Linked DNA regions of Homo sapiens. The protein of the gene in region 3 binds, or shares a complex with, the protein of the main gene of each other region. Each region holds a gene or a part of one and is shown on either strand. Other genes may lie near its edges. A codon is read from its position in the direction of its gene.

The links.
Region 1: the proteins of TGFB1 (region 3) and ITGB6 are in contact, whole or in part, in a crystal structure (PDB 5FFO), measured with the Homo sapiens proteins. Residues at the interface, in NP_000651.3 of Homo sapiens: Pro70, Gly71, Pro72, Glu75, Leu158 (codon at 2,584), Asn237, Gly245, Asp246, Leu247, Thr249, Ile250, His251, Met253, Asn254; in NP_000879.2 of Homo sapiens: Ser142, Ala143, Ser144, Asp146, Asp147, Pro196, Cys197, Ser199, Ile200, Pro201, Tyr202, Lys228, Lys231, Ile232, Ser233, Ala234, Asn235, Ile236, Asp237, Thr238, Glu240.
Region 2: the proteins of TGFB1 (region 3) and TGFBR2 are in contact, whole or in part, in a cryo-EM structure (PDB 9FKP), measured with the Homo sapiens proteins. Residues at the interface, in NP_000651.3 of Homo sapiens: Arg303, Lys309, Trp310, His312, Tyr368, Tyr369, Val370, Gly371, Arg372, Lys373; in NP_003233.4 of Homo sapiens: Phe47 (codon at 452), Leu50 (codon at 461), Phe53 (codon at 470), Asp55 (codon at 476), Ser72 (codon at 527), Ile73 (codon at 530), Thr74 (codon at 533), Ser75 (codon at 536), Ile76 (codon at 539), Cys77 (codon at 542), Glu78 (codon at 545), Val100 (codon at 5,965), Asp141 (codon at 6,088), Glu142 (codon at 6,091).
Region 4: the proteins of TGFB1 (region 3) and ITGAV are in contact, whole or in part, in a crystal structure (PDB 5FFO), measured with the Homo sapiens proteins. Residues at the interface, in NP_000651.3 of Homo sapiens: Gly242, Arg243, Arg244, Gly245; in NP_002201.2 of Homo sapiens: Asp178, Asp180, Phe207, Tyr208, Gln210, Ala245, Asp248.

Annotation. Positions count from the first base shown.
Region 1 is NC_000002.12:160,196,967-160,204,729, forward strand, and holds the start of ITGB6 (integrin beta-6 isoform a precursor), read right to left. Parts: upstream 3,307-7,763; 5' UTR 3,098-3,306; coding exon 3,037-3,097; intron 2,293-3,036; coding exon 2,213-2,292; intron 1-2,212. UniProt on the Homo sapiens protein: Integrin alpha-V:beta-6 (ITGAV:ITGB6) is a receptor for fibronectin and cytotactin. It recognizes the sequence R-G-D in its ligands. Internalization of integrin alpha-V/beta-6 via clathrin-mediated endocytosis promotes carcinoma cell invasion.
Region 2 is NC_000003.12:30,644,340-30,651,852, forward strand, and holds part of TGFBR2 (TGF-beta receptor type-2 isoform B precursor), read left to right. Parts: intron 1-407; coding exon 408-576; intron 577-5,930; coding exon 5,931-6,121; intron 6,122-7,513. UniProt on the Homo sapiens protein: Transmembrane serine/threonine kinase forming with the TGF-beta type I serine/threonine kinase receptor, TGFBR1, the non-promiscuous receptor for the TGF-beta cytokines TGFB1, TGFB2 and TGFB3.
Region 3 is NC_000019.10:41,343,410-41,350,922, reverse strand, and holds part of TGFB1 (transforming growth factor beta-1 proprotein preproprotein), read left to right. Parts: intron 1-2,467; coding exon 2,468-2,628; intron 2,629-6,058; coding exon 6,059-6,176; intron 6,177-7,513. UniProt on the Homo sapiens protein: Transforming growth factor beta-1 proprotein: Precursor of the Latency-associated peptide (LAP) and Transforming growth factor beta-1 (TGF-beta-1) chains, which constitute the regulatory and active subunit of TGF-beta-1, respectively.
Region 4 is NC_000002.12:186,585,243-186,593,101, forward strand, and holds the start of ITGAV (integrin alpha-V isoform 1 preproprotein), read left to right. Parts: upstream 1-4,813; 5' UTR 4,814-5,096; coding exon 5,097-5,281; intron 5,282-7,859.

The DNA.
Region 1 (7,763 bases), on a different chromosome or scaffold from region 3:
CCCATCTAGCACTCTCTGCCAGTTGTATGCATCGGTCTGTTACCCTTATATTGCAGCATTACTTCACCTAAATTGACCTCTTGTGGACTTAAACCCAGAGTCTTGAAGTATCCTAGTTCAAGATCCTTTATAACTTTCTCCAAGATTTGAAAGTGAGGAAGAAAAGTGAAAAAGATGGGTTAAAAGTCTGCTTTTTGCTGGTGCCTGTAGTCCCAGCTACTTGGGAGGCTGAGGCAGGAGAACGGTGTGAACCCGGGAGGCAGAGCTTGCAGTGAGCCCAGATCATGCCACTGCACTCTAGCCTGGGCGACAGAGCAAGACTCCGTCTCAAAAAAAAAAAGTCTGCTTTTCTGCGTGGGACACAGGAGTTTCCCACAAGGATAGCAGAGGGGCAGTGAGATGTAGTCTTTCCCAGCAGAGATGTGGCCGTTCAAATTCTGAAACACCCAAAACAGGGAGATGGAGCTAATAGATTAAATACCTGTCTTACCTGATAGGCGTGGCTGCTTTAGAGTGGGCATGACACTATGCAAAGGGGAACTTGTTGCCCATTGACTTTCATGCTTAGAGAAAACAAAACCAATGCTCATACTATTTTCCTTGCCTCTTAGAACTCCAAGCCACTCTTGCTGTTTTCATCAACTAGGAAAGTTAGATTTCTTCTGAAATTGATTTTGAGAATACAATTTGTTATCTATCAGTAGGCCTGTGCGTGTCTGAAGCTCTAGGCCAGGCATGGCAAACTGTAACTTCCCATGATGTAACCAAGGGAAACAGTGGCTGGCCAAGGCTTCAGAATCCTTCTCAACACAGTGTCATTGCTATCACCTCTATTCATAGCCTTTGCCAGAAGATCAGAGGTGGTGTTAACCACATGACCTATTTTCTATCTGCCCTAAGCAGAAGCCTAATTTACTTTTTGCTCCAACTGCCTCGACTGGCATCCTCATAACTACTTCTAATATTAGAGTGGCCTCTTAGAATAATTTGGTTTTACAATTTGACAACAATTTGGCTACCAAGTATTATACACAAGTAAAGTTATCAGCAGCAACTTAGGAAACTCTCTTAAGTAAATGCTGAAAAATGCATTTAAATGAAAATTCTAGGCTGATTTGTTGTTGTATCTCTCTGGCATGAAACTAATACTTCTTCAAGAAGTCAATATCCAAAAAACATGTGATTTTTTCCCTTCTTGTATATTCTCAATCCTGCTTTGATACAGGAACTAAAAAAAAGCATAATTCTCTTGAATTTTTTTTGTGGCCGCGTTGGTCAAGGCCGTAGTAAGGGACTGAGCTGTGTCTGTGCTCTCTTGTCTGTGAGGCCACACTTCATGGATACACACTGAACTCGGAGTTTGGGTTTCCACAGGTAGAACCCAGTTCTGAGTTTGGTGTCGAGGTTTGTTGCTCTTTGAGCATGCTACTCAGCTCTTGCTGCACTTGGTATTCGTATGATTTGATTTATGTTTAGATTATCTTTATGAGATCCAGTGCATAGAGACTTGTTTTAAAATTCAGAAAGCTAATGCCTCTCTTCCTTACCATGAATCAGTTAGACATCATTCTCTAGTGTCTTAGGATGGCTTGGTACATAGTCCCCAATCATCTTCATACTGCTTTCATGTAGTTTTCGGTTTGACCAGATAAGGAGTTCCTATTTGGCACTTTGTCACTGGTGTGGTACAGAGTCACTGAGTTTATGAAAATGCCATTTTTAAAGGAACTGGATAATATCTGACCAGTAATATTTGCCCCAAACTTAAAACACATCCCTTAGAATCTAGCAGTAGTTCAGAATGGATCCTGGTACCCAGAGGGAATACAACTATAATATGAACATCAAATGTATGTTTAACTTTAGAAAATATCATCTCCATGAACTCTGATTATCCAGACAGCCTCCATATTTTACATGTAACCTGTAGAAATGGCTTTACAATAAAAGAAGGAACCAGGTAAAATAAAAAAATCCCAAGTTAAAATTTTTTTCCGAATTATTTGACATCCACTCCTTCTACAAATTGTTTTTGAAAGTAATCACATGAATGCCATTTTGATCTACCAATGCTCACCTTCTCCTTTCCTGATTTGTTTTACTTATACAACTCCACAAAAAAGCAAGTCACTATCAGAAATATCACTGAGGAAATTAACATGAATTTAACTGCAGACAGGTTTTAAAAACACATTGAGGTCATTTATTTTACCTCCTGAGCACACCAGGCACACTGAGGTCCAATAAGCAGGCAGTCTTCACAGGTTTCTGCACCTCCCAGGGCACAGCCACCTAGGTTTAGACCCAGCAAGATGCAGGGATTAAGTACACTTTCAGTCATTCCATTTATGAGACTGATGGCTCTTACATTACTTGAACAAAACAACATCAAAGTTTAGTTTAGTATCCAAAATCAGTCCTCGAAATGTTAGCAATTCACATAAAAGTTTGTATTTTACATCTATCACATGTAAAATATGTGTATGTATATTAAAAATTATGTATGTCTTATAAGCCAAAATTATCATGCTCTTTTTTCTTAAAATGTGAAAGTTCACAAATATAGGATTATCCTATTTATTATTCTTAGCCAATGTGTGCCACTTTAATTTTTAAAAATTACTTGCAACCATTAAAAAATGCTTCTTTCTTAAACAAGTTATTTCTGTTTTTGAAATAAATCCTCTTTCTCTTTCAAGATTATTACTCCTAAGTGGAAGATCTTGTGGTAGAATAAAATAGAAAAGTTTCAAAAATGGTTATCATACTGGCACTAAGTTCCATTGGGCAGTAATGTTATTTAATTCTCCTCATTAAAATGCCTGTGCAACCTTTGTATTTATTTACCTTAAGCCTAGAGCATTCACTGTGGGAACTGCCCGGTGTTTGTCTGTAATTTGTTAAAGTGTTCACTCAGTCACAAAAGAGCAATGGAACAGATCAAATAAAACATGACTTCAGATCTAGTTTCTGAACCAAATGACAGGTTTGTCAAGCATACCACGAAAGTAATATATCAGAGAACGCAGGTCTTACCTTGTACGTGATCATTCCTTCCTAGAAATAGAAAGAACAGGCAAAGCAGTTCAATCCCCATTCGTTTCAGTTCTTGCTGTGCAGACCGATTAAAAAATGAATTACCTTCAGCGTTACAAGACCAACGCTGAATATCGTTAAAGTCTTTCTTTCTTGAAGTATAACATTTTAAATACTACTTACACTGCTTTGAAAAGAAACTTGAGATATAAGTTAGAAAGTTTTCATTAAGACTGAAATGAAAACAGAGGCTACCTGGACAGGTAAAGCAGAAAAGCTGTGTTTAAAAGCAACTTCAACATGATTTACTTCCTTGTTCTCCTTATAAGGAAGGCAGGTGTACAATCACCAAGAAGGTGGGGAAATTCATTCAGTAGAAATTTTGGTGTAAGTTCTATGAGTCTCTCTGCATCCTAGAGAAAGTTAATATCTTTAGTGAAATATTGATCAATGAAAAGTCACAACAGCAATAGAAATATAGTCATTTTAAAAATAATTTTAATTTAATGTAAAGAATAAAGATTAAATAAAGCATATAGGCTATATATGAGGAAAGTAAAAAATGAGCTTAATGAAAATGCCTGAGATTTTAGTGTTTCATTGCTAAATCCTTTGCAAAAAATTGAAACGAACCCTGAAAAAGAAAAATTATTATCTTACAGTAAATGAGAAGGAAGGCTAGGGAAAGCAAAGCACTGTTTCCTTATTTTTTCAAATTAGATGAAATATATTTTTCCATAAGTATAAAATTCTTATTTTAAAATTATATTGGAAATAATCATAATATATAAAAATCAAAGGAGATCAAAATAAGAATGTCTCAAAAGACACTGATGACAACAATGATGAAAACAGAAATGATGGTGCCCAAGATTCTGAATCCCTCAGGCTAGGGACCAAGTTCTCTATGCAATGTGCTGTTCCAACCTCTAGCTCATGATTTGGCACATAGGAGATATTTATTTGTTGAGTGAAAGAGTGACAATTCAAAATATATATGATCTATGGCTAAATCCATGAGGTTTTTTGTATTTTTCCCCCAGGGTGTTCTTCAGGAAGGTGTTTTGAGATTTGTAGAGTCTGTGAACAGATAAGAATCGAATTCTCACTTCGTCACTCTAGAAACTGCTGACCTTAGAGAGACTTTTCTGTGGCCAGGCTTATGTCTGAGGAGATTATCTTTTCAAGGAGCATTCCTGGGTAAGCATGTGAAACCTGTAAACAGAGGGAAACGGACTATGGTCAATAATAATTTAATTCTACATTTAAAAATAACTAAAAGACTATAAATGGGTTGTTTGTAACACAAAGGAGAAATGCTTGAGGGGATGGATACCCCACTTTCCATGAGGTGTTTATTACACATTGCATGCCTGTACCAAAACATCTCATGTATCCCATAAATATATACACCGACTATATACCCACAAAAATAAAAACTAAAATAAAATAATTAAAAAAAAAAAACCAAAGAAAGAGAGAAACTAATTATAGACTACCTAGGCTTTTCTCAGAAGCCTATGTTATGTTCAATTTTGAACTCCATCATATCCAAGAAGCTGGAAAAACATGGCAAGAATTTTGCGGTAACAATCCAGAATTATTGAAGAATTGGAAGATATGCATTTTGAGAGAAAATTTATATAAAATTAGTTGATTTAACTTGAAGAAGAAAGATCGAGCCACAAATTGTTTGTGTCTCTGTTATTGTCATTTTAAAAATCCAGTATTAACTATTATTCATTCATTATTCATTCATTCAACAAGTACTTCTTGGGCATTTACTTTCTGTCAAATATTATTTTTGAAGCAGAGGCTACATCAGTGAACACAACCAAGTTTTTGATCCATGCAGCATATATTCTAGGCTGGAGGGCAGTGCAGGGAGATAGACTTCTAAAATCAGGCAGTGCCCAGGGCTATGAATCATAAGTCTGGGTAAAAGGAAAGAGGGGCAAGGGAGTGTGTGATTTTCTTTAGAATAGTCAGGGAGGGTTTCCCTGACCAACTGGCATCTGAGAGAGCCCTAGATGACTTTGACAACACAGCTAACTATGAAGGCCTGAGACAGCCCAATGGCAGGTGTTTTCAAGGGCAAGTGGAATACAAGAAGGGAGAGAGAGAGGGTAATCAGATTTGAGGGCAGAGGTCAGATCATATGTAGTCTTGACCTTGAATTTTATTCTATACCTTGTGTATCACTGGAAAGTTGAAAGTAGAGAAATAATACTATTTAATTTACATTTTAGAAGAACCACACTGGCTGCTGAGGAAGTGAAAATGTATGCGGCAAGATTGGAAGGTGAATGGGGCAAGAGAGGAATGCATGTCTCTGTCAAGAACAGAGATAATCGTGGCTGGGACTAGGATGTTTGTGGTGCAGGAGGAGGGGGTGATCAGATTCAAGATCTATTTTGAAACTGGACTGTGCTGATAGATTGGATGTGAACATGAAAGAAAGAGGTTTCTGTCTGGCATAGATACATTGTACTGGCTGAGTGATACATTTTACTGAGAGGGATTACATTGAGGAAGAATCAGGTTTCATGTGGAGGATGAGGATCAAGAACATGGTAAGTTTGAGATGGCTAGAAGATAACCAAGTGAAGATGCCACATAGGCAGGTTTGATATCTAGGTCTGGAAATGTGGGCAATGTCAAAGAGCAAACTGTAAATTTGGGATTATCAGCATGGGTTTAAAGATATGAGGCTGATGGTGTTCAGAGATATGTGGCTGAATGAGATCCCTCCAGGAAGCGAATGTATATAGGGAAGAGCTCTGAGGACTGAGCCCTGGGGCCTCTAGATATCTGTAGATCAAGAGGAGAAGGATTTAGTAAAGGAAGCTTCTATCTAAAGAACACTTCATCTTGCTAAAGAGGAACCTGTCTTTGTTGGAAGACAAATTCAAGTGTCTCTCACATTTCTGCACATCTTACAAGCAGAGGACCTGGCTGCCTTTTTTCTAGACTCTCTTTTCCAGGATGTTTATAAAGTGAACGGCCTTTGAAAATACAGACAGTGTCCCTCTTTAGGGAAAAGGAAAAATTGCTTACAGCTTTGGAAGATAGAGACAGTGTCAACCTGCAGAACAAAGAGTAGGCCTGTTTACTGCCCATTATAAAAGGTTCAGTTTCCCTAAACTCAAAGTTCTTCTCTTATAACACATCTTACTACATGTGCAGGAGTCACCTCTTTCTTTTGTGTCATCTTGTGGGAAATGGTATTGGGGAACTGTGAAAGAATGTGCTGACACTCTGACCACTGCAATTGCTGTGAATTAAAAAGTTCTTAAAAAAAAAAAATAATTAAAAAGTTCTTTTTCTGTGATGCAGGCATCGCATGTCTCCATCAGTACCCACAAATCCATGACAAGCTAACTTGTCAGCTTGCAAGTCAGGTAAAAGCCCAGGCCCTTCATAGTTCTTGACAATTTCCCACACAAAATCCACCTTTGTCTGGAGACTGAACATGCAACTTTCAAACCTCACTTTGGAAGAAAAGATCTTACATCCTACAAAACTGCCTTGGACTGACAAGTGCTGCCCTGGGCTCCAGAGGTTTCCCCAGGTCTTGAGTTGCCTGTCTGCCCATAGACCTCCCTGGCAGCCGCTAGCAGGCACTCTAGAGGAGCTGGATCGGGGTGGCTGCCCAGCTCTGGATATGCCAATCCCTGGAAACTCTCCATGGTTCTAGCTGCCACCAACAATCTCTCCTTCCTGAGAACACAGTTAGACTACCTCTCCTGGCCTGTTTTGCAGCTAAGAAAATCCCAACAACCAGCTCTTGCCAACAGAATACGAGTGGAAGTGGTACATACCCCTTCTAGATCATCCTCATGTCCCTCTGACAACCAGATGCAGGCAGCAACAAGGTCCTAGAACTCTAAAACCACAATTTGACCATGTATTTAAATGGACTTGTGCCATCCCACATAAAGACTTCCATCTCAGTCCTAGAATCATAATCACACTGATTGATTTATTCTCTGTCCCCCATGGCTGCCCCTCCAGTGCACACCCTCCCTAATTTTCAGGCCTTCACACAAACCATTTGTTCTTCCTGCAGGCCTTGGGTTGCCTCTCATGCCTCTCACTTGGCTAATTCAGCTTGCCCTCCAGGTCTCAGTGTAAACATTAGTGTCTGCAGGAAACACTTTTTGGTTTCTCTAGGCCTCCCCTCCTGTGGACATTCCCCAGAATAGCCATTTTTGCTCTGCTTGTAATTGTCAAAATAGTTGCCTTTACTCAACAAATATTTATTCAATTCTTGCTATGTATCAGACAGCGACTGTGTCTCAGGAATCTTTCTATTCCTAGCAAGTAACACAATGCCTGGCACTTTGTAAGTAGTCAATTAATGTTTATATTGAGAATATGGGTGAATTTTAAGTCTTCATTGTCTAGTATTTCACCAGTTACAAAGCAGGTACTTCATGGATATTGAGTAAACAGATGAGTAAATGAAAGAATGGTTTAGGAAGGTAAATAATACAATTAGGAAAGGGAAAATGTGTTCCCTGCTTGGGTTGTGCCGAAAGCTGAGAAAAAGCTTAAAATGCAACGTAAAGAAAAGGCAGGGGGGAATTTGAGACAATATAAAGTATAATAATGTTATGAAAGAATATCTATCCACTCTGTTTGCACCTTGGGACTGCTGGCTAATTTGTACCAAGGGGCAAGACACCGGGAAGACATAGCCTTGCTTCCTAAGGAGGGTGCCTGGT
Region 2 (7,513 bases), on a different chromosome or scaffold from region 3:
CTGACTTGGTCTGTTTCCTGTCTTATTCACCAGCTAAACTATAATTTCCTTAAGGGTACTTTTATTTGTGGGCCCAGCACTCCGTACTATGCAGTGGGCCCATCTAGGTTTCTTTATTGAATGATAAGATTTTTGTAGAAAGTGGACCTTATGACAACCATTGACAAAAGCAAATGGCTACTCAACCACCCCAACCCCTCACCACCCCTCACCACGGTACAATGGATTTTATTACAAATTGCATACACCAGATAATTCTAATCTGATGTGAAGGAATTATTTTGCCTTTCTTCAGATTCATTCTCATGACATCAAGTTCATTTGAAATTGCATAACATCTTCAGGAATTCATTGGCAGGCTGCCTGGCAGTTGGATAATCATTTAATATATCTTTCTCTCTCCTCAGTTAATAACGACATGATAGTCACTGACAACAACGGTGCAGTCAAGTTTCCACAACTGTGTAAATTTTGTGATGTGAGATTTTCCACCTGTGACAACCAGAAATCCTGCATGAGCAACTGCAGCATCACCTCCATCTGTGAGAAGCCACAGGAAGTCTGTGTGGCTGTATGGTAAGCAAGCCTTTTAAGAAGTTATTCTTTCTTTTCCCCTTTTTACATAATGTATTCTCATAGTACACACAGTCAGTGTATCTCTGTCTCCTAAATGTAAACACCTGTTCCATTTCCCTTTCCTTTAGACCATCTCTCTTTCGATTATTAAATGTAGTTTCTAGGGGTGTTCTCTGCATGTATGTGTACGTTTATGTGGGTATATAAACGTATCATGATTATAAAATGATCATGATAAATGTAAAGATCATAAAATGATCTTTAATATAATAAATCTGGAAACTCTTTCTTGTATCAAGAAGAGGGATTTGCCGCTTAGTAGTCATTTAACCGACACCTCCTCAGCACCCCATAGTGAGACCAGGAGCTTTGTTCTCTTGAGGCAATCTCAGGTCTGGAAGAAGAGGTGATGAAAGGTTGGCTGTTGGAAGAGAAAACTACCAGCCAAAAATGGGGAATCTACTTGGAGAACCACAAAAACAACCTGTTTTTTTAGTCAGAAATTCTGGTTATATTATTCATATAACCATTGGGATAGATATGACTTCTTTCTCTCAGCTCAGAACTACATATTTCTTTTTTTTTTTTGAGATGGAGTCTTGCTCTGTCATTCAGGCTAGAGTGCCATGGCACAATCTTGGCTCACCGCAACCTCCACCTCCCAGGTTCAAGCGTTTCTCTTGTCTCAGCCTTTCGAGTAGCTGGGATTACAGGTGCCCACTACCACACCTGGCTAAGTTTTGTATTTTTAGTAGAGACGGGGTTTCACCATGTTGGCCAGGCTGGTCTCGAACTCCCGACCTCAGGTGATCCACTCGCCTCTGCCTCCCAAAGTGCTGGAATTACAGGCATGAGCCACCATGCCCGACCAGAACTATATATTTTTATCGGATCACATTTTCTCCTCTCTCTCTCTCTCTCTCTCTCATTCCCTCCAACTCATACATACATCTCAAATAATAATTATACATACACAGTGGATACTCATGAATCATTTGATTAATTCATGGTTATAGATTGTGAGCATGAACAAGAAATAACCTTGATCTTTAGAAGAGTTGTAATTTTACAAAAGTACATAAATTCATTAATGAGATATGACATTTTGCAGACTTATTCTGATGTTTTTAATTTATTGGCCATTTTAAAAAAAGTAACTTATGTGTCTCCTGGCTAGTTGACAAACAAGAATATAAACCCAAATATCTCTCCCCCTTTTTTGGGAATGAGTCATTTGAGACCCCTAGACCATGTAAAGCTAGCCTTGATGATAGATCTGGAAACCTTGCAAACTTCTGTACATACCACGGGATGAACTGGTTTCTTAAGAACTGAAGGAATGTTAACAGCAAAGACTTGTCATGACATACTTGCCAATATGATATGATACCTGTCCATGTCCACTTCTAGGTAACGCTTTCAAAGAAAGGATTTGGACAAAGAATGTGTTCAGAGGAGAGGGACCAGTGTGGTTAGAGGCCTAGAAATCATGCTGTCTGAGGAATGGCCTGGGCAATTAGACATGGTTAGTACAGTGAAGAGAGATCGTGGGTTCTGCTGATGAAATTGAAAGGCTCTCAGGTAGAAAATATAATAAACATATTCTGCATAACTCTGAAGGGTAGAGGGAGGATCCATAACATTTGCAAGGCAGGCAGACTTGTGCTCAGCATAAGTTTAGACATTTTCACAATCATGGTTTCCCAACAGCAGAACAGGCTTCCTTTTCTGTAAGCACCAAGTGAAGTTCAGGAGAGGCTGGATGACCATATGTCAAATAGAATGCAGGAAAGATTGAGACACCAGACTAGATGGCCTCAAAGCTTCCTTCCGTGGTTTCTTAAATATCTACGGTGGTGTGAGCACTTGCTTTTGCAACCCAAAAAGGCTCTTTTAATTAAGATTTTTGTTTTCCTGACCAGTAATACAAGCCCAAATCATTAAATGTGAATCAAGTCTCTCTAGAATAGAGGCTTTGCTAGCCTCAAAAAAATGTGAGCATGTCGAAGAGAGGAGGCCTCCCTGTCTTTTCTGTGTCCCAGCTATAAAGGGTAAATACAATGAACATTATTTTGACCTGTGCTGGCCAAAGAAAATTCTCCCGTGAAGCCAGGGGTGTTGATAATGAGAAGGGGAAGTATAGGGTACGCTATAGTGCCCTCCTTGATCCTCCTTCATGACCAAGGCACTCATTCCCTGGGAGTGTTGGCTGTTGAAGGATCACTGCTGAGCCTTCCCTCCAGTGATGGGAGCTGCCTCATTCACGTTGGACACTTTTCATGGGTAGCCATCATCCCATGGCTAGTTGATGCAGAGAAACAAATTCCTGGTTATTTTGCCATAATGTGGTACATCTTTGAAGGACATCCCATTTTCAGAGTTTCCAAGGCATTCACTGAGGCCTTTGCTGCAACCTGCATTATAGTTTAGCTTTTTCCTTCTGTGCAATACTGTTGCCTTTAGTCGCTTACAGATGCATCTCCAAAAACCTCCTGCACAGAACTCTCACAGCCTCAAGGTCTGTTTCCAGGAAACCTAAACTAAGACAGGAGGCTATTGTAAAAATAGCCAGTGTGGAAACTGAAAGGCTCTACTATGATTGTAGATTTCAGTGTTGTTGTTTTTTTAATCAGTTTTAGTGTTTTTTCATTCATTCATTCATTCATTCATTCATTTAACTAATGTCAGTTGTGTGCCCATTCCATATAAAATGCTTAAGCTGCCTCCAAGGATAGAAATATTTTATAACCAAAATTATTATTATTATTATTTTTAAATTGAGAGGGAGTCTCCCACTGTTGCCCAGGCTGGAGTGCAATGGCGTGATCTGGGCTCACTGCAACCTCTGCCTCCCGGGTTCGTGCGATTCTCCTGCTTCAGCTTCCTGAGTAGCTGTGATTACAGGTGCACACCACCATCACGTGGCTAATTTTTTGTATTTTTAGTAGAGATGGGGTTTCACTGTGTTGGCCAGGCTGGTCTCGAACTCCTGACCTTGTGATCCGCCTGCCTCGGCCTCTGAAAGTGCTTAGATTACAGGCATGAGCCACCGTGCCCAGCCTCCAAAATTAATTTTATCATGTTGGTTCTTCTTTCAGTGGAAATTGACAACCTCTTCAGTGGCTCAGAGCAAATGTTGCAGGACAAAAAAAGAAGTCCGTATTTACTTCTTTGTATTTACCTTTCCTATGCTCAGCTATATCCAAAAAGAGTTTGAAAAGTTAGCTGTGCCTGGCTGTTACAGGAGTGAGTGGAGAAAGCAGTTAAGGGCTTTACCAGGTCTCAAGTATTACAGTTGTTTTCTCTCTGTGATGTTAGTTCTCTCAGTAGCTAAGAGGTAGAAAACCGGAGGCTCTGGAAGAGCTGCCCAATAATTATAGAGCAGCTTTCTTTCATGGCTCACAGTTCCTTCTTAGGCCTCTATAAGCGTCACAAGGAAAAGAGACCATGCCTTTCTGTGGGCACAGCATACCTTCGTTTTATTACCCAAACCAAAAACAACCTACACACACACACACACACACACACACACACACACACACACACAAAACTGTGGGGGCAGGGAGGAAGGTGTTCTTGTTCCATGACTACAGCTGATTTGAAGACTGCCAAGTAGCTTTGGGGTTAAAGATGGGTAGATTTCCAAATTATACATCATTTGTTGTATGATCATGCCAACTTTCATTTAGTTTCATTTGGTGTCCTGATAGCCACCCTCAACCAATTATTCTGCTTGTCACTCTTCCTGTCACAGCAGGGACCAACTTAGCAAAGCCTTGCTCCTCTTGTGTCTTTCGGAATTCTAGTTTAAGAACCCTTGAGCCCCTTCACAAGCAGACACATGTACCTCCACTGGAGTCAACTCTGGGCTGCATGGATGTTGACACTGGCACCATTCCTGCCTGGATTGTCCTAACCCATACCCTTGCCCTTATCCCTTTGTCAACATATTGTCCTTTAATGTCCTTGACTTAAGCACTAAAAAAGTGGTATTGGTCAAAGTTGCTCTTTCTCTCATGGGGATGGCCCCGCATCTTTTATAGGTGCAAGCTGTGTCTTAGCTGCTTCTTGCTTCTAGCCTGCCTTCCGTTTTCCTTGCTGTGAGCAGTGAGCCTTTGTGCATGGGGCAGGGAGGATTAGGGGAAAATTGGTGAGTGAGTACATGCATGCATTGGCTCATGTGTGCACTCAGAATCTTCATAGAAGATTACTCTAGCAAAACTGACTGGACCAGATTAGCCCTTCCTTCCGCTCCCTCTCTAGACAGAGAGAATGCGATTCAAGACAACAGGTATTTTGCATCTAAAAAGGACAGAGGTGAAAGGGTGGATGTCAGACTAGCCTTGTTGGACAGTCATCCAAGATAGTATGTTCATGAGGGAGCAGAGGGAGGTAGATAGAGAGGTGATACCCTTTTCCAAGAGAGCCAAAATGTTCTTTTGTTCAATTATAATAGTGGGCATTAATCATGTTGTTTAAAAATCTAATGTACACTGACGGCCAATTGAGCATTTCCTAGGGCCCAAGGAAAATGCTATGTGAGAAATTCTCTGAGCCCTGGGCTAAATTAGTCTTCAAATATGTGCTATGAAGTGATACTGTCAAAGTAGTTAGTTTATGACAGCATAAAATATTTCATTGAACTGTAAATGAAGAACACCCTGACATCCCTTTCCATTTCTTTTATTTATTTGTTTTTTTTGTTTGTTTGTTTTTTCTGAATTGCTCCTTTCTGTAATTTGGGAAAGACTGCAGTTCTTTATCTGCGATGTTTCTTCCCGTTTTTCTCAGCAGAACCAGCTGTTGACAAGGAGTATACCCTTTACACGCAATGCTCTGGGGCCCAGCAAACAAAAAAAAGAGGAACTGTGACTATTTCCCCAGGCATGCTCTTTGAAAACAGTATAGCTAGACAGGACAGATTTTGCCACTTAAACTAGGGGTGTGATGTGAGGTTTGCATTACATTCAGGATGGAAGATTTAAAATTATCCTGAGTACCTAGGAATGTTCTTTTTTTCCATGTCTTCCCCTTTAATGATTTAATTAAGACTTAAATATGTAAAGTTCTCCACCAGGACTGCCCCGTGGAACGCTGTCTGCTCCAGGTGATGTTTATAATCACAAATGGGTTCCAAGAATAAACAAAGGAAAAACAGAAAAGAGTAGAAAAGCATAGGAGACTATAGGACAGCCTGCGAATGCTGGAGAACAGGAACCAGCTGCCGTTGTTAGGAACAACTTCATGAAGGAAAAGTATTCCAGATTGCCTTTCTGTCTGGAGGCCATATTATTCATTTATTCTCTTTCTCTCTCTCCCTCTCCCCTCGCTTCCAATGAATCTCTTCACTCTAGGAGAAAGAATGACGAGAACATAACACTAGAGACAGTTTGCCATGACCCCAAGCTCCCCTACCATGACTTTATTCTGGAAGATGCTGCTTCTCCAAAGTGCATTATGAAGGAAAAAAAAAAGCCTGGTGAGACTTTCTTCATGTGTTCCTGTAGCTCTGATGAGTGCAATGACAACATCATCTTCTCAGAAGGTGAGTTTTCTTCTCTTAAGGGTGTGGGACCTGAGATCTGTGCCAATTTTTTGTATCCTTGGTCTGCAGTGTCATAGAGCACATTCCTCCTGTGGTGGATTGCATACAGTGGATTAGGAGCTCATTCAGCTGGTGGAAAGAGGGGCTTGGGGAGTAGCAGGGTTTGTTCTGGTTCTCATCAAATATGGTTGACTGGGGCAAACATTATTATTTGTCTTTGACAAATAGTTTCTTTCACCTAGAGCAGTGTTTCTCAAAGTGCGGCCTCTTGAGCAGCCAGCATCAGTATCACCTGGGAACCTGTTATAAATGCAGATTCTCAGGCCCCACTAAATGAGAAACATAGAGGGTGAACCCCAGCTATCTGTATTTTAACAAGCCCTCCCAGTAATTCTGTGCAGCTAAAATTTGGTAACTATTGTTCTAAAGATTTGGATGGGGTTGTTTAATCTTGGAGGAGGACTTTCTTTATAACTGATGTTGTTTCTTGTACATAGTCCCAGGATTTGTCTTTAGGGTACTTGTCATCGATCCCATTTGAGAGAAACATTGCAATACAGAGAGGAAATAATAAGCCAAAGTTTACCCCTAGAGCCAGGAGAAGAGTAGATTAGATACTAGCCTCCATCTTTGAAGTTCAGCGTTTACTCAGCTTGAAAGGAAGGCATACACTATTCCCTCAATTTTTAATAAGAAGAGAATTCAGTGGTTTTTAATTACAAAAGTAGTATATGCTCGTCATCAAAAATTTCAAACAATCCAACAGTGTGTGAAAATTAAAAATGAAAGTACATTTTCGTCCTCCCCTCACTCCCAATGCAACAGATCATCTGTATTGACAATGTATTAGATGCACACACGTCTCTATCATTCATTCATATTATCTCCCACTCCATCCTCTCTCCCAATCTCTCCCTGTCTTCCTTTCTCTTTCCCTCCTTTCATCCATCTGTCCATCCTTCCATCCACTCATCCATCTTTCAGTACAACTATCTGATCATACTATAAATATTATTTTGCAACACTTTTTTATACCCAACCACTTTTACAATTCCTTCTAAACAAGATAGAACACATAGATATACTGTACATCTTTTAATTTAGTCTCGAATTTCATATTATCTCCCACGATGGATCTTATCATGTCCCTGTTGATGGATTGTCTTCAGTTTTTCCACTTAATGCTACATTGAATATCTTTGTAAAAATATCTCATGCATTTGTGCTAATATTTCTGCAAGGCAGATTGCCAGAAGTGAAATTTCTAGATTAGAAATATGTGTATTTTAAATTTGAATAAGCACTACTAAACTATTCTCCTCCTGAAAAGGATGTAAGCATATGGATTTCCGTGTACCTTCTCCAACACTGGGAATGGATAAGTCTTTTAAT
Region 3 (7,513 bases):
ACCCTTCCTCTCCCTCCTCTCTGTCTTCCTCCCTATCTGTCTTCCCCAGCCAAGGCTCTGCCTTTCCTTTGGGGTTTGCTGAGTAACCTCCGGGCCAAGAATAGGGCTTACTGGGGCTGGGTGGGGAGGGAGACTGGGGAGGAGGAGGAGGATCGAAGGGGGCCGTAGGGGAGGGGTTTCCTCTGCCTTTCTCACCAGTCTCTTTTCACACCCCCACTATGGGAGGCTGGAAGCAGTTGCCCCAGTTGATCCAGCAGTTCATGGCCTGTTCCCTCATCCCCATCCCCAAACTTTTCCTAAACTAGAAAATACCTTGGCTGGGCGCGGTGGCTCACGCCTGTAATCCCAGCACTTTGGGAGGCCAAGGTGGGTGGACCACCTGAGGTCAGGAGTTGGAGACCAGCCTGGCCAACATGGTGAAACCCGGTCTCTACTAAAAATACAAAAATTAGCTGGGCGGGGTGGCGGGCGGCGCCTGTAATCCCAGCTACTTGGGAGGCTGAGGCAGGAGAATCGCTTGAACCTGGGAGGCAGAGGTTGCTATGAGCCAAGATCGCGCCACTGCACTCCAGCCTGGGCGACAGAAACTCCATCTCAAAAAAAAAAAAAAAAAAAGAAAAGAAAACACCTTAATTCCTTTTCTCCCCACTACAGCCATTCCTACCCAGAATGAACTTCACTTTCCCTAACCAGCTGGGGAAGGGAGTTAAGGGTGGAAAACTAATAATAAAAATAAGTAGAAGAATCACTTAGGGGTTAAGAGCACAGTCTCTAGCTGGGTGGGTGTGGTGGCTCATGCCTGTGATCTCAACATATTGGGAGGCTGAGGCGTGAGGATCCCTTGAGCCCAGGAGTTCCAGCCTGCCGTGAGCCATGGTTGTGCTACTGCACTTCCGTCTGGGGGACAGAGTGAGACCCTGTCTCTTGGGGGAAGAAAAAAAAAAAGCACAGTCTCTGGAATGAGACAGCTTGAGTTTGAATCCCAGTCTGCAGCTATGTGACCTTGGGGCAAATTACTTAATCTCGGTGCCTCAGTTTCTCATCTATTAAACGGGTATAATAATAGTATAAGGTTGTGAGGTTTAAATGTCTTCATCTTTGTAAAGTGCTTTAGATAGCATCTGGTAAATAGCGCTGTTTTGTGGTTTTTTGTTGTTGTTGTTTTTGAGACAGAGTCTTACTCTGTCACCCAGGCTGGAGTGCAGTGGCGCAATCTCGGCACACTATAACCTCTGCCTCTCAGGTTCAAGCGATTCTCATGCCTCAACCTCCCAAGTAGCTGGGATTAGAGCCGTCCGGCACCATGCCTGGCCAATTTTTGTATTTTTAGTAGAAACGGGGTTTCACCATGTTGGCCAGGCTGGTCTCGAACTCCCGACCTCAAGTAATCAATCCACCTCGGCCTCCCAAAGTGCTGGGATTACAGGCGTGAGCCACTGCGCCCAGCCAGCACTCTTAGACGTATACATGATTGAGTGACCAGTGTATGCAGAATTGGTGCCACATGGCTTGACCTGGGTCATCTAATTTCCCACTATAATACTGGAATGGGTTCTAGAGTCACTCTGTCTTGTCTTACACCTGGCTCAGAGAGAGGAATTCACTTGCCCAAGGTTACACAGCGCTTAAATTAGGAGAGTCTGTGTGGGAATGCAGGGAGCTTAATGTTATTGCTGTTTTTCAAAGAATAACAGGAAACTGACATTCAGAAAGAGGGTGTTAACTGCCCATGGTCACACAGCCAAGAGGCAGCAGAGGCACTATCTGAGTCCAAAGCCTGTGCCTTTGATCCTTACTCTGCATTTTAGGGGCTCTTGCATTTGGGGCAAGGAAGGCCAGAGCAAACAGAGTGGTTCCCCTTGGTGCCAGCCTTAGTCGACTTGAGAGATGATGCTACATGAGAGAGGAATGTGGTTAGGACCTATTTTACAGAGGAGGAAACAAACCTAGGGGGAGAAACCACTTCCTCAAGGTCACACAGCTAAAAAGTATCACAGTCAGGGCTGGGCGTGGTGGCTCACACCTGTAATCCCAGCACTTTGGGAGGCCGAGGCGGGTGGATCACGAGGTCAGGAGATCGAGACCATCCTGGCCAACATGGTGAAACCCCATCTCTACTAAAAATACAAAAATTAGCTGGGCATGGTGGCATGAGCCTTTAGTCCCAGCTGCTCGGGAGGCTGAGGCAGGAGAATTGCTTGAACCCTGGAGGCGGAGGTTGCAGTGAGCAGAGATTGCGCCACTGCACTCCAAGCCTGGGTGACAGAGCGAGTCTCCGTCTCAAAAAAAAAAAAAAATTCATTTAAATAAATAAATAAATAAATAAATAAATAAATAAATAAATAAAAGGTATCAGAGACTGACTCCACCCCAGAGCTGTCAGCTCCAAAACTCCTAGAGTTGGGAGCACCAGCTCCCCTCACCTCTGCCAAACCCCTGATCGCCTCCCTTCATTTCTCCCTGCTAGAAATCTATGACAAGTTCAAGCAGAGTACACACAGCATATATATGTTCTTCAACACATCAGAGCTCCGAGAAGCGGTACCTGAACCCGTGTTGCTCTCCCGGGCAGAGCTGCGTCTGCTGAGGCTCAAGTTAAAAGTGGAGCAGCACGTGGAGCTGTACCAGGTGAGGACATGAGCCAGAAGGAAGGTCAGGGCATGGGCTGGAGAGGGTGAGCTGTGACCAAGGGGGTGGCTGTGGGTCGGCTGGTTACAAGGTCCACCTAGATGGTCCCTGAAGGATAGAAGAACACAAACCATACAATCCTAGAACGCTTTTTTTTTTTTTTTGAGACAGTGTCTCACTCTGTTGCCAAGCTGGAGTGCAGTGGTATGACCTCAGCTCACTGCAATCTCCGCCTCCTGGGTTCCAGTGATTCTCCTGCCTCAGCCTCCCAAGTAGCTGGGATTACAGGTGTGCGCCACCACGCCCAGCTAATTTTTGTATTTTTGGTAGAGATGGGGTTTTACCATGTTGGCCAGGATGGTCTCGATCTCCTGACCTCGTGATCCACCTGCCTCGGTCTCCCAAAGTGCTCAGATTACAGGCGTGAGCCACTGCGCCTGGCCTCTTTTTTTTTTTTTTTTTTTTTTGAGATGGAGTCTTGCTCTGTCGCCCAGGCTGGAGTACAATGGGGTGATCTCGGCTCACTGCAACCTCCGCCTCCTGGGTTCAAGTGATTCTCCTGCCTCAGCCACCCGAGTAGCTGGGATTACAGGCATGTGCCAACACGCTGGGCTAATTTTTGTATTTTTAGTAGAGACAGAGTTTTATCATGTTGGCCAGGCTTGTCTCAAACTCCTGCCCTCAAGTGATTCTCCTACCTGAGCCTCCCAGAGTGCTGGGATTACAGGTGTGAGCCACTGCACCCGGAACCTAGAGCACTTTTAAATGTTCAGACTCTTTGCATCCTAGGATGTTAAACACTTAGAAGGCTGGAATCTTAGGAGTTGGACTCTTTAAGGACACAGGATTCTTGAAAGTTGGAATCTCTGAAAAGGTTGGGGGCTCTAGAATCATTCTGTCCAATATGACAGCCACTAGTCACATTTAGCTTGATTAAAATTTAAATTGTTTAAAATTAAATTAAAAATTTAGGGCCAGGCATAGTGGCTCACACCTCTAATCCCAGAACTTTGGGAAGCCGAGGCAGGCAGATTGCTTGAGCCCAGGAGTCCGAGACCAGTCTGGGCAACATGTTGAAACTTCGTCTCTACAAAAAATACTAAAATTAGCCTGTTATGGTGATGCGTGCCTCTAGTCCCAGCTACTCAGTAGTCTGAGGTGGGAGGATTGATTGAGCCCAGGAGGTCGAGGCTGTAGTGAACTGTGATTGCACCACTGCATTCCAGCCTGGGTGATGGAGCGAGACCGTCTCAAAAATATATATATATAGGCCAGGCGTGGTGGCTCATGCCTGCAATCCCAGCACTTTGGGAGGCCAGGGTGGGTGGATCACTTGAGGTCAGGAGTTCAAGACCAGCCTGGCCAACATGACGAAACTCCATCTCTACTAAAAATACAAAAATTAGCCAGGTGTGGTGGCAGGCACCTGTAATCCCAGCTACTTGGGAGGCTGAGGTGGGAGAATCGCTTGACCCCAGGAGGTGGAGACTGCAGTGAGCGGAGATCATACCACTGCACTCCAGCCTGGGCAACAGAGCGAGACTCTGTCTCAAAAAAATAAAAATGAAAAAGAAATCCTCATTCTCACTGGCCATATTTCTAGTACTCTATAGTCACATGTGGTTAGCAGCTACTATTTTGGATGTTGCAGATAAAGCACATTTCCAGAAAGTTCTTTAGGACAGCACTGCTCTAGAAGATAGGGAGCTTCCAAGAGGACTGGGGCATCTGGAAGGGCTGGAGGCTCTAGCAGTTTCTATGAGCTAGAATCCATATCAGAGGGAATGTTAACTCATAGGATGGTAGATTTCAGACTTTCACAGTGAGAGAACTTTGTCCTATGTTAGCTTGGCTTCTTGGAGTCTGGGGAATTCAGCTTTATTCTGCAGTCCCTGGAGTGGACTATCCAGCCCCAGAAAATTCTTCTTTTTTTTGTGTGTGTGTGTGATGGAGTTTTGCTCCTGTTGCCCAGGCTGGAGTGCAATGGCACCATCTTGGCTCACCACAACCTTTGCTTCCTGGGTTCAAGCGATTCTCCTGCCTCAGCCACCCGAGCAGCTGGGATTACAGGCATGCACCACCACACCTAGCTAATTTTGTATTTTTAGTAGAGACGGTGTTTCTCCATATTGGTCAGGCTGGTCTCGAACTTCTGACCTCTGGTGATCCACCCTCCTCGGCCTCCCAAAGTGCTGGGATTACAAGCGTGAGCGACTGTGCCTGGCCCAGAAAATTATTCTACACAGATGTTGGGTACCTGCAGCATCTAGGTGCGGCATGGCAGACTCTTGGGTTTATAGAACATTAGTCTTCTAAAGCTTCTCAGGCTCTAGAAGTGGAAATCTTGGGATATTATCAAACATTTGAATCACAAAATGACTTTTTTTTTTTTTGAGACAGAGTCTCACTCTGTCACCCTGGCTAGAGTGCAGTGGTGCAATCTCGGCTCACTGCAACCTCTGTGTCTTGGGTTCAAGTGATTCTCCTGCCTCAGCCTCCTGAGTAGCTGGGATTACAGGCGTGTGCCACCACGCCTGGCTAATTTTTGTATTTTTAGTAGAGACGAGGTTTCACTTTGTTGGCCAGGCTGGTCTTGAACTCCTGACCTCAGGAGATCCACCCGCCTTGGCCTCCCAAAGTGCTGGGATAACAGGCGTGAGCCACCGTGCCCAGCCGGAATCATTAGAAATGACTTCTAAGTTACTGAGAATTCAGGGTGTCAAATTTGCAGAACCGTATGCTCAGTAAACCCCAGAATGTTTGCAGCAGAATTTTATTTTATTTATTATTATTATTTTGAGACGAAGTCTCGTCCTGTCGCCCAGGCTGGAGTGCAGTGGCGTGATCTTGGCTCACTGCAGTCTGTGTCTCCCGGGCTCAAGCAATTCTCCTGCCTCAGCCTCCCAAATAGTGGCGACTACAGGCGTGTGCCACCATGCCTGGCTAATTTTTGTATTTTTAGTAGAGATGGGGTTTCACTATGTTGGCCAGGCTGGTCTTGAACTCCTGACCTCAAGTGATCCACCCACCTTGGGCTCCCAAAGTGCTGGGATTACAGGCGTGAGCCACTGCGCCCGGCCCAGAATGTTAGCAGCAGAATTTTAGCATTGTGGGCTGTCCACGCTGAGTGGGGCTTAGCATTTCACCAATGAGGAAACAGGCCTCGAGAAGGCAAGAAAACACCTTCGGCTGAGCTGTGTGAAGGTGACTTGACCGCAGCCTGAGCTTTTTCTCCACCCCTCCTCTCATGGGTACTGTTGGGGAGGATGGGTGCCACAGGACCACACAGGTGGCTGTCTGAGAGGGTAGTGCCTGGGAACTTTCTGGAAGCCTGTTTGGGGAAGCAGATGGGGTGAAGGATTCAGTTAGTGTATGTGGGGTCGTGACACCATCTACCCACTGTCTCTCTCCTGCCTTCATCATCCTCTAGAAATACAGCAACAATTCCTGGCGATACCTCAGCAACCGGCTGCTGGCACCCAGCGACTCGCCAGAGTGGTTATCTTTTGATGTCACCGGAGTTGTGCGGCAGTGGTTGAGCCGTGGAGGTGAGGATTACTTGTGTGTCCCACCCCTGTTTCTCCCTGGGGTCCACCCCATTGTTTGTCCTGGGGTCACTTTGCCTAGGACCCCTCTCCGCCCCATACTGGTGTGAAAGTGCTGAGACCTGGCTCCCCTCTGTGGCATGGAAACCTGAGTGATTGGCTAATCTGTTTCCTGAGCACCTCTCTGCCCTGCCCTGTGATGGGTGATGCCAAGGACACAGCAATGACCAAAACAGCCCCATCCTTGCCCTCACAGAGCTCATATAGTCCATTGGCTAGGTAGCTGGGGAACAGACCTGTAAGGCAGTGATGACCCAGAGTGGGTGGGACTGGGATGGGGAGCCCAAAGGAGGTACCTGACCCAGCCCAGAATCAGGGAGGGCTTCCTGGAGGAGGGGCACCATAGCTGATGTTGAAGGGATGAGTAGAATGGTCAGGAAAAGGAGAGGTGTAAGAGTATTCTGGGGCTGGGCATGGTGGCTTATGCCTATAATCCCAGCACTTTTGAAGGCCAAGGAGGATGGATCACTGGAGCTCAGGAGTTTTGAGAGCAGCCTGGGCAACATGGCGAAACCCGGTCTCTACACAAAAATACAAAAATTAGCCATGCATGCTGTTACGTGCCTGTAGTTCCAGCTGCTTGGGAGACTGAGGTGGGAGAATCACCTGAGCCTGGGAGGTCGAGGCTGCAGTGAGTCATAATCACACTACTGCAATCCAGCCTACATGAAAGAGTGAGATCCCATCTCAAAAAAAAAAAAAAAAAAAAGATTCCAGGCAAAGGGAACAGCCTGTGCAAAGGCCTGGAGGCCAGGGAGAGCCTAACTAACTCATTTGATCTGTCCAGGAGATGATTGTCTCTGTCTGGTTTCTGGCAGGGCCCATGGTGCCCCTATCTCTCTCCCTCACCTCCCTCTCATTTATGCTTTTATTCAATAATTGCCCACAGGTTCCTGCTGTGTGCCTGGCCATGTGCTGGGTGGTGTGGGGGACATAGTGATAACCAAGACAGCCCTCAGTTCTGCCCTCATGGGGCCCACAGTCACTTCTGGACACCTAAGAGATCTTGTCAAGGCCCCACCAGGCAGGAATGACCTAGAATGATCAAGAATGGGATGGGGAGGCACCAGCAGGGAGGACAAGGCTGGGACAGGGAGGCATGCAGGATGGGGGAACGCCCTAAGTGCTGTTGGGAGCCCAGAGAAGGCACCTGGACCCATCTGGGGAGTCTAGGAGGGCTTGCTGGGTGAGGGTGATTGTGTGGAGACTCACAGGATAAATAGTAGTTTGGCCACATGAAAAAAAAGGGATTAGGGGGCCTGGCATGGTGGCTCACGCCT
Region 4 (7,859 bases), on a different chromosome or scaffold from region 3:
GGTATGGTTCCCAATGAGTCTTCCTAGGAGACATGGGTTTTTGCTATGCTGCCCAGGCTGGTCCCAGTCTCCTGGGCTCAGGTGATTCTCCCACTTCAGCCTTGCAAAACAGTGGGGATATGTTAGTTATTATTAAGTTCGTGGACAATGGAATTAATTCCTAAGGTCTGTAAGCTCTGAGGATACAAAGACAATAAGGTGTAGTTCCTAAGAGAAGTCTTTCTTGGAGACAGGCTGACGCCTAATACAAGCAATGAAAGAAGAATAGGAAACAGCCACTTTAAGGACATTGTGTATGTTTGTATATAACAGAAGGATGGAGGCTTGTGGAAAATGGTTACAGGCAGAACTAATGTTGCCCAGGAAGATGGAGCCCTTTGAGCAAAGATAGCACTCTGGAGAAAAGTTAAGTTATTTAATATGGCTAAAGCTCCTTTGTGAGGTGGGAAGTGTTAAGAAATGAGAGTTGAGAGCATGACAATGCATAAGATCACCCTGAGGAGAACTGCAGTGATTCAAGAACAGAGACTTAGGGAATCCTAGCATTGAAGGGGTAGTTTAGGAAACATGGCCCAGAAAGGTAACAAGTTTACTGCCTGCCTTCTCTTCTTTCCCATTCACCCAAAGAGCAGAAGTGCTGGCCAGAATCTTTTCTGATACAGATCAGATAGGAAAGGGCAGCACTGGGAGTGGAAGTGGTTATGGGGGTGAAGAGAGAACAAGTCAGTCTCCCTAATAAACAGCCAAGAGAGGAGTGACAGGAGTGAGTTAGACAAGCAAACAGCAACAAAAATTCCAGGGCAGGGTTTAGTGGGTTAAAGTCTCCAGAGAAATTGAGAGTAGAAGAAGCAGATTTCTGAAGTTCCCATGGGTTATTAACTGAATCTCCTTTGAGGTTCTTTGAGAGAGATAAAATTTGAAATTCCTCTTAAATTATGGACTAAGTTCCTTTGTTTGCAGAGACAGAGCTGCGTGAAGCCCTGGTTTGATTATGGTTATTGAAGGACCTGTTGGACAGACACTAGGGGAACTAAGAGAGTGAAATAATAGTCATAAAAATTTACGGCAGGAGAATTGCTTGAACCCAGGACGCGGAGGTTGCAGTGAGCTGACATGGCGCCACTGCACTCCAGCCTGGTGACAGAGTGACACTTTGTTTCAAAAAAAAAAATTTATTATTGCTACCATGCTAAACTATTAGTCTTAAAAGTATTAATGGCAACAAGAACTGTTCAATTCTAAGAGATAGACATAGTATTACTCCCCTTTCCCTTTCATAGATAAGAAAACTGAGGCACAGATTGGTTGGATTGATTTCCCCAGGGTCATACAACTAGTAGTTGGCAAAGCCAGGAATGGAACCCAGGTGCTTTATTTTACAGAAACCACTGGAATCAAGATTTTTACTAAAGTATAGGGTAGTAGAGGATAAAATTCAAAGTACAAATTCTTTTTACTATCTAATATTTTATTTTCTAAGAAAAGGATTATATTCAATGAATACTTAATGTATACACAGAAGTTCTCCTTTTAAGTTGGAAAACTGTTATAATGTAGTTCAAAGAGTAGTGTCATGGGGGTAGGGGAGGGGCACCACCATTCTTTCGTAGACTAAAACATTCTTTTCTCTGTCCCATGCACATAGTACCAGGTGCAATGTGGATTTTGAATCAGCACTAGCTGAATTGACATGTTCTACAATACAATTTGCAAGGCACTGTGTGAGTGGCTGCTCGAGCATGGTCACACAAAGAGATGCCTGCATTTATAACCCCAAGTTTCTAAAGCCACTGGGTTAGTCTGCTTCATAGTTTCCTAATTGAAATGTATGTTTGCTTTTTTTTGTTGTTAGACAGTCTCGCTCTGTCACCCAGGCTGGAGCACAGTGGCCCACAATACCACAATATCTCGGCTCACTGTAGCCTCTGCCTTCCGGGTTCAAGCAATTCTCCTGCCTCAGTCTCCTGAGTAGCTGAGATTACAGGCACACACCACCATGCCTGGCTACTGTTTTTTCTTTTTTGAGATGGAGTCTCATTCTGTCATCCAGGCTGAAGTGCAGTGGCACGATCTTGGCTCACTGAAACCTCTGCTTCCCAGGTTCAAGTGATTCTCCTGCCTCAGCCTCCCAAGTAGCTGGGATTACAGGTGCCTGCCACTGCACCCAGCTAATTTTTGTATTTTTAGTAGAGATAGGCTTTCACCATCTTGGCCAGGCTGGTCTTGAACTCCTGACATCGTGATCCACCCACTTTGGACTCCCAAAGTGCTGGGATTACAGGTGTGAGTGAGCCACTGCGCCCGGCCAATTTTTGTATTTTTAGTAGAGACGGGGTTTCACTGTGTTGGCCAGGCTGGTCTTGAACTCCTGACCTCAGGTGATCCACCCACCTCGGCCTCCCAAAATGCTGGGATTACAGGCATGAGCCACAGTGCCTGGACTATTTGCTTTTTTAAAAAAAACAAATTCCTTGATTTTCAAGACTGCTCATTCAAAATAAACTCATAAAGAATGGCTCAACAGTAAGTGCTTTCAGTAAGTTGTAGCCCTATTTGGGGGTGTGTTGTTCACCCAAGTTTTGGTGGGTGTACATGTGTTGTCATTTCGTGGGCTTCTTCTTTTCCCTGGTCCTCTCACATTTCTTCACTCCACCTTGGTCTGTCGGACCCCTGTCCTGCGATCAGAAGTTGAGGAGTGGGAGACTTACTGGATCTAGCCAGAGTTTAAACTCTTCTGTCTTCCTTACCTGGATGGATTTCCAGGTAGACTGGTTGTCATGTTTTTAAGATATAAAAGACCCTTTGGGTTTATGCATACATATCAATAGCCTCTTTGGTGTATTAGGAAAGAAGGTGAGAAATAAGCTGTATTTGCATTTATGTGTAAGGATTTGTGTAGGATTTCTTCTCTCAATCAGTAATTTCTTTCAGGCAGATGCTAGACCATGCCTTGTAAAACATGCCAAAGGTTTTGCTGCATATCTTTTAGTCAAATTTAAAAATGGAAATATTTAATGCATTTTTTTTTTGAGATGGAGTCTCACTCTGTGGCCCAGGCTGGAGTGCAGTGGCACCATCTCAGCTTACTGCAGCCTCCGCCTTCCGGGTTCAAGCAATTCTCCTGCCTCAGCCTCCTGAGTAGCTGGGACTGCAGGCGCATGCCGCCACGCCCGGCTAATTTTTTGTATTTTAGTAGAGACGGGATTTCACTGTGTTGCCCAGGCTGGTCTCGAACTCCCGAGCTCAGGCAATTTGCCGGCCTCAGCCTCCCAAAGTGCTAGGACTACAGGCATGAGCCACCTCGCCCGGCCTTTTTTTTTTTTAAACACAGGGTCTTGTTCTGTCACTCAGGCTGGAGTGCAGTGGCAGGCTCATGACTTATCATAACCTGGAACTCCTGAGCCTAAGCGATCTATCTACCTGCCTTAGCCTCCGGCATAGCTGGGACTACAGGCATGCACCACACTCCCAGCTAATTTTTAAATTTTTGTAGAGATGAGGTCTCCCTATGTTCCCCTGGAACTCCCGGTCTCAAGCAATCCTCCTGCCTCAGTCTCCCAAAGTGCTGAGATTGCCAGCATGAGCACCTGGACCTGGTCCAATAAATATTACAAATTCGAATTAGGCATTTCACTTTCATTTATATACATATCCTTTCACAGGATTATTTGATAGTTATTAATGTATATTATGATTGAGTTTTAATAGTTACTTTGGGAAAACAGAAATTACTGTTCCAGTACTTACTTGTAAGTTGTAAGTCCACACAATGCACTTAAACTTCACCTTGTTCAACAGATTCTGTAGCACATGAAACACTTGAAATATGGAAGAGTCACTTCTCTGGGCACTTTGCTCATTTCGTCTGCTATTCATTCACTGATTGGACATTTTATTGATCGACTACTATCTGCTTGGCAAGGTGCTAGAAATAAGAACACTAAGAAAAAGGTCAAGGTTCCTGTCCTCAAGGCCCTCTCTCTCAGTCCAGTGTTGTCAAGGCTTGATGAAACACACCAGTGGCAAACAAGCACGCGGGGCCTTATTTCACCGGTGTGCGGTCCTTCTTCCAGCTCTGAAATTATGTCTATCCAAACATCCTAAATCAACAAATCAGTGTTTCTAAATCATACAACCGCAGCTAACAAACTGGGAATAAGGCTTCGATTATTCTGACTTGATTTAAAACGATCACTGCCAATTCTTTGCCCTGCGAATCCTTTCTTTGACTACTAAGTTAAGCTTTACATACCTCACTTGCAAGAGGCTATGCTGGCTTTCTGGAAATCCGTAATTAAGTTCAGTGTTTGTGGAATGGAGTGTAATTAACGACCATTAATTAACAGGGTTTCGTTCGTGAGAGCCTGCCAGGCTAAGCAGCAGAAACACGAGAAACTGATAAAAAGCTTTCCTCATTTTTAAACAACAGTCGCACGGAAGTTCCCGGCGGGACAAGGGAACGTGGGTGCCCTTGCTACTCCCGTGGACGCGGGTAGATTGGGACGCTGGACCGTATCTCCCCGCCCCCGCCCCCACGCCTCCTCAGGTGCTCAGCCTGAGGCCTTCGTCCAGGAGCGCTGCCGCTGACCCAGGCTCAGGAGCTGGGGGCCCCTGCACAGACGCCCAGGTCTCGGGACAGGCGGCGACTGCACTCACGGAAGTACGCTGAGCTCTCCCCTGTAGAAGGGCGCCTCTCCTCCCCCACTTCCTCCTCCAGCTCCACAGCAGCCTCCCGGGCCGGCTCCTCCTCCTTCCAGGTCTCCTCCCAGTGCCGCCGCGGCTCTCAGGCCTGAGGTGCGGCGCTCACCCCGGCAGTCCCCAGCCTCAGACGCTGCGTGGAGCGGCGGAGCCGGAGGGAAGCAAAGGACCGTCTGCGCTGCTGTCCCCGCCCCGCGCGCTCTGCGCCCCTCGTCCCTGGCGGTCGCTCCGAAGCTCAGCCCTCTTGCCTGCCCCGGAGCTGTCCCGGGCTAGCCGAGAAGAGAGCGGCCGGCAAGTTTGGGCGCGCGCAGGCGGCGGGCCGCGGGCACTGGGCGCCTCGCTGGGGCGGGGGGAGGTGGCTACCGCTCCCGGCTTGGCGTCCCGCGCGCACTTCGGCGATGGCTTTTCCGCCGCGGCGACGGCTGCGCCTCGGTCCCCGCGGCCTCCCGCTTCTTCTCTCGGGACTCCTGCTACCTCTGTGCCGCGCCTTCAACCTAGACGTGGACAGTCCTGCCGAGTACTCTGGCCCCGAGGGAAGTTACTTCGGCTTCGCCGTGGATTTCTTCGTGCCCAGCGCGTCTTCGTAAGTGGCCGCACTTGGAACTGGAGCCGGCCCCCTCCCCCACCGCGCGCACCCACCCAGCGTTTCTCCATTGGGATTGATTTCCGAGAGATCCCGGCGTCTGTCTGTCTCACCCATCCTACCTCTCAGAGTGGTTTATATCCTGGGTGGAGGAAATATTTGGGGAAATGAACTCCCTTTGGTACCCATCACCCAGTTACACCCCGCTTCTCACCTCTTAAAATTGGTTAGGGGCAGCGGGAGAGCTTTGAAGCAGACCTGTGCTTAAAAATCGGGGAAAGTGGGAAATCAACAAAGGCTGGTCTTGCCGGACTCCCCGCCTCCTGTGCCAGTGTCGAGGATTTGGTCAATATCATCCCCGAACTTCTTTTTCTCCTCTACCAGTTAGGCTTCTTGGTAGCCTTTTTCTGCTTTACAGGCTTAACGCCCGTCCTTTTCAGTCTCCCTAAACAAGCCCTCCCCCACTCTTTCCGCCTCTGTCTGATTCTGTTTCTCCTTACTCCTTTTGCAGACATTCTGATGACTTAAAATGACCATACTGTCCTATTGAATTCATTGTGTCTTATCTCTGGGACTGTCAGACATTTGCACATTTGAGGTTGAACAGATGAATTGAATGTGTCATCTGTTCTTTTTATAGTGATTCACTATTTAGGTCATTGTTCAGAAGGAACAAGGGTGTTTGCTGAGTTTTCACTCGCTGCAGGTCATTTGAATACTGCAGTATTTAATAATTCAGTTATGTTTTCAAGTTGCCAACGTTCCGCGTTGCAAGGGCCGTCAGGATTTATAACAGTTATTGCCATTATTGTGTTAGAAATTGTCTCCGACTTTACTGAATGCTGACATCATTCTCACCACCCCACCCCCATGTTAGCGTTAGGAGTACTGTTTTAATGAATGTTGACTGTTTTTTTAATGATGTTTAAATCTTGTTTTCAAGAGAGAAACTGTTCTTAGGGTGCCTTCTAAACGCTTAGACCTTGTAACAACATATTTTTGTTTCCATATTTTCTGTATAAGATATCCCTTCGGGGTGAAGTGGAGGAAAATTTTGACGGTTAGTACGTGGATAGGACCATCTTCTACTACACACATGCCTAATTTGAGGGTGGTCTCAATGGTTTTCTATGACTGTTAGGACACTCAGCAGAATTTAGTCTTAGTGTTTTTCTGAATGTTACTGAGTATCATTCATTTTGGTAACAACCTTTGCAGCAATACATAGATTAGATGCAGTTAATGGAAACTTTGTTAGTGGAGACATTATTTTATGTAGCAAGCTTAGTTTTATTTGTTGTTAGCAGTTACAGTGCTTTCTGTGAGACCTGGAGCACAGATTTTCCAACATGATAAAAATAATCATTATTTAGGCAACATTTACCAATTTCACATTCCATTTAGTCATTTTAGTCAGCATTATCTTTTTATTTATTGTTTTTAACCACAGGGGTGAATACCAAACGTTATCTTTAAACATTTTTGTTTCCAGATACTTTCAAGTGTATACCTTCATGAGACAGAACATTTTAGTTGCTCCCAAGGGTTCAATGTGAGATATAATTTGTAGAGAAATTCTAATGATTTTGAAAATATATGTCTTCAGTCAAAAATTAGCATTTAAATACTTCAGGCCAGGCACAGTGGCTCACACCTGTAATCCCAGCACCTTGGGAGGCCAAGATGGGCAGATTGTCTGAGCTCAGGAATTTGAGACCAACCTGGGCAACATGGTGAAACCCTGTCACTACAAAAAAATACAAAAATTAACCGGGCATGGTGGTGCACACCTGTAATCCTCGCTCTGCGGGAGGCTGAGATGAGAGGATTGCTTGGAAAGTTGAGGTTGCAGTGAATGGAGATTGTGCCACCACACTGTGGCCTGGGCGATAGAGAGAGACTGTCTCAGAAACAAAAACAAAATCAAAAACAACAAACAATAACAACAACAAAATAAAGTTGATGGCAGTGTTTTACAATGTTACTGTTAATTCTTCAGCAGTGCTCTGAGTTTAGTGTAAGATAAATGAGAGGCTGATAAACTTTAAGTGTTTTTTTTTTTTCCATGAAAAATGCAGTGATGTTGAACTCTTCATGATATTTGCTACTGCTGATTACAAACCAGGGTGACTAATCTTTGGCCAGTCATTATAATCAATGAATGTGTTATGACCTCACAGGTTTACATGACTTCACTCATAGACCTTTAATGATAAAGTAAAATTGAACTTGGGTTTGGTTGCATATAATATTTTGAAATATTCATCAGCAACTTTGTTACCGATAGACTACAGAGCTCTAGGTATAGGTAACTTAAAAAATGGAAACCAACCTTGAATTTTTTTCTTTTTTCTTTTTAAACAAAACGTATATAAACACAGGTTTTTACTTACTGAGCTTTTCAGATTTAACAAAAATTTATGTAAAATTTTGCTGAATTTTCTAGAAGGGCACTTTAAATTTAACAAGCATTGGAATCCAAGGTACTTGGGATGCCATTTCCAATATTACCAGTTGGATTTATTGTTATTTGGTATTACCATAAACTTTTAAAAGAAAAAAAGCCACATAATGAAAA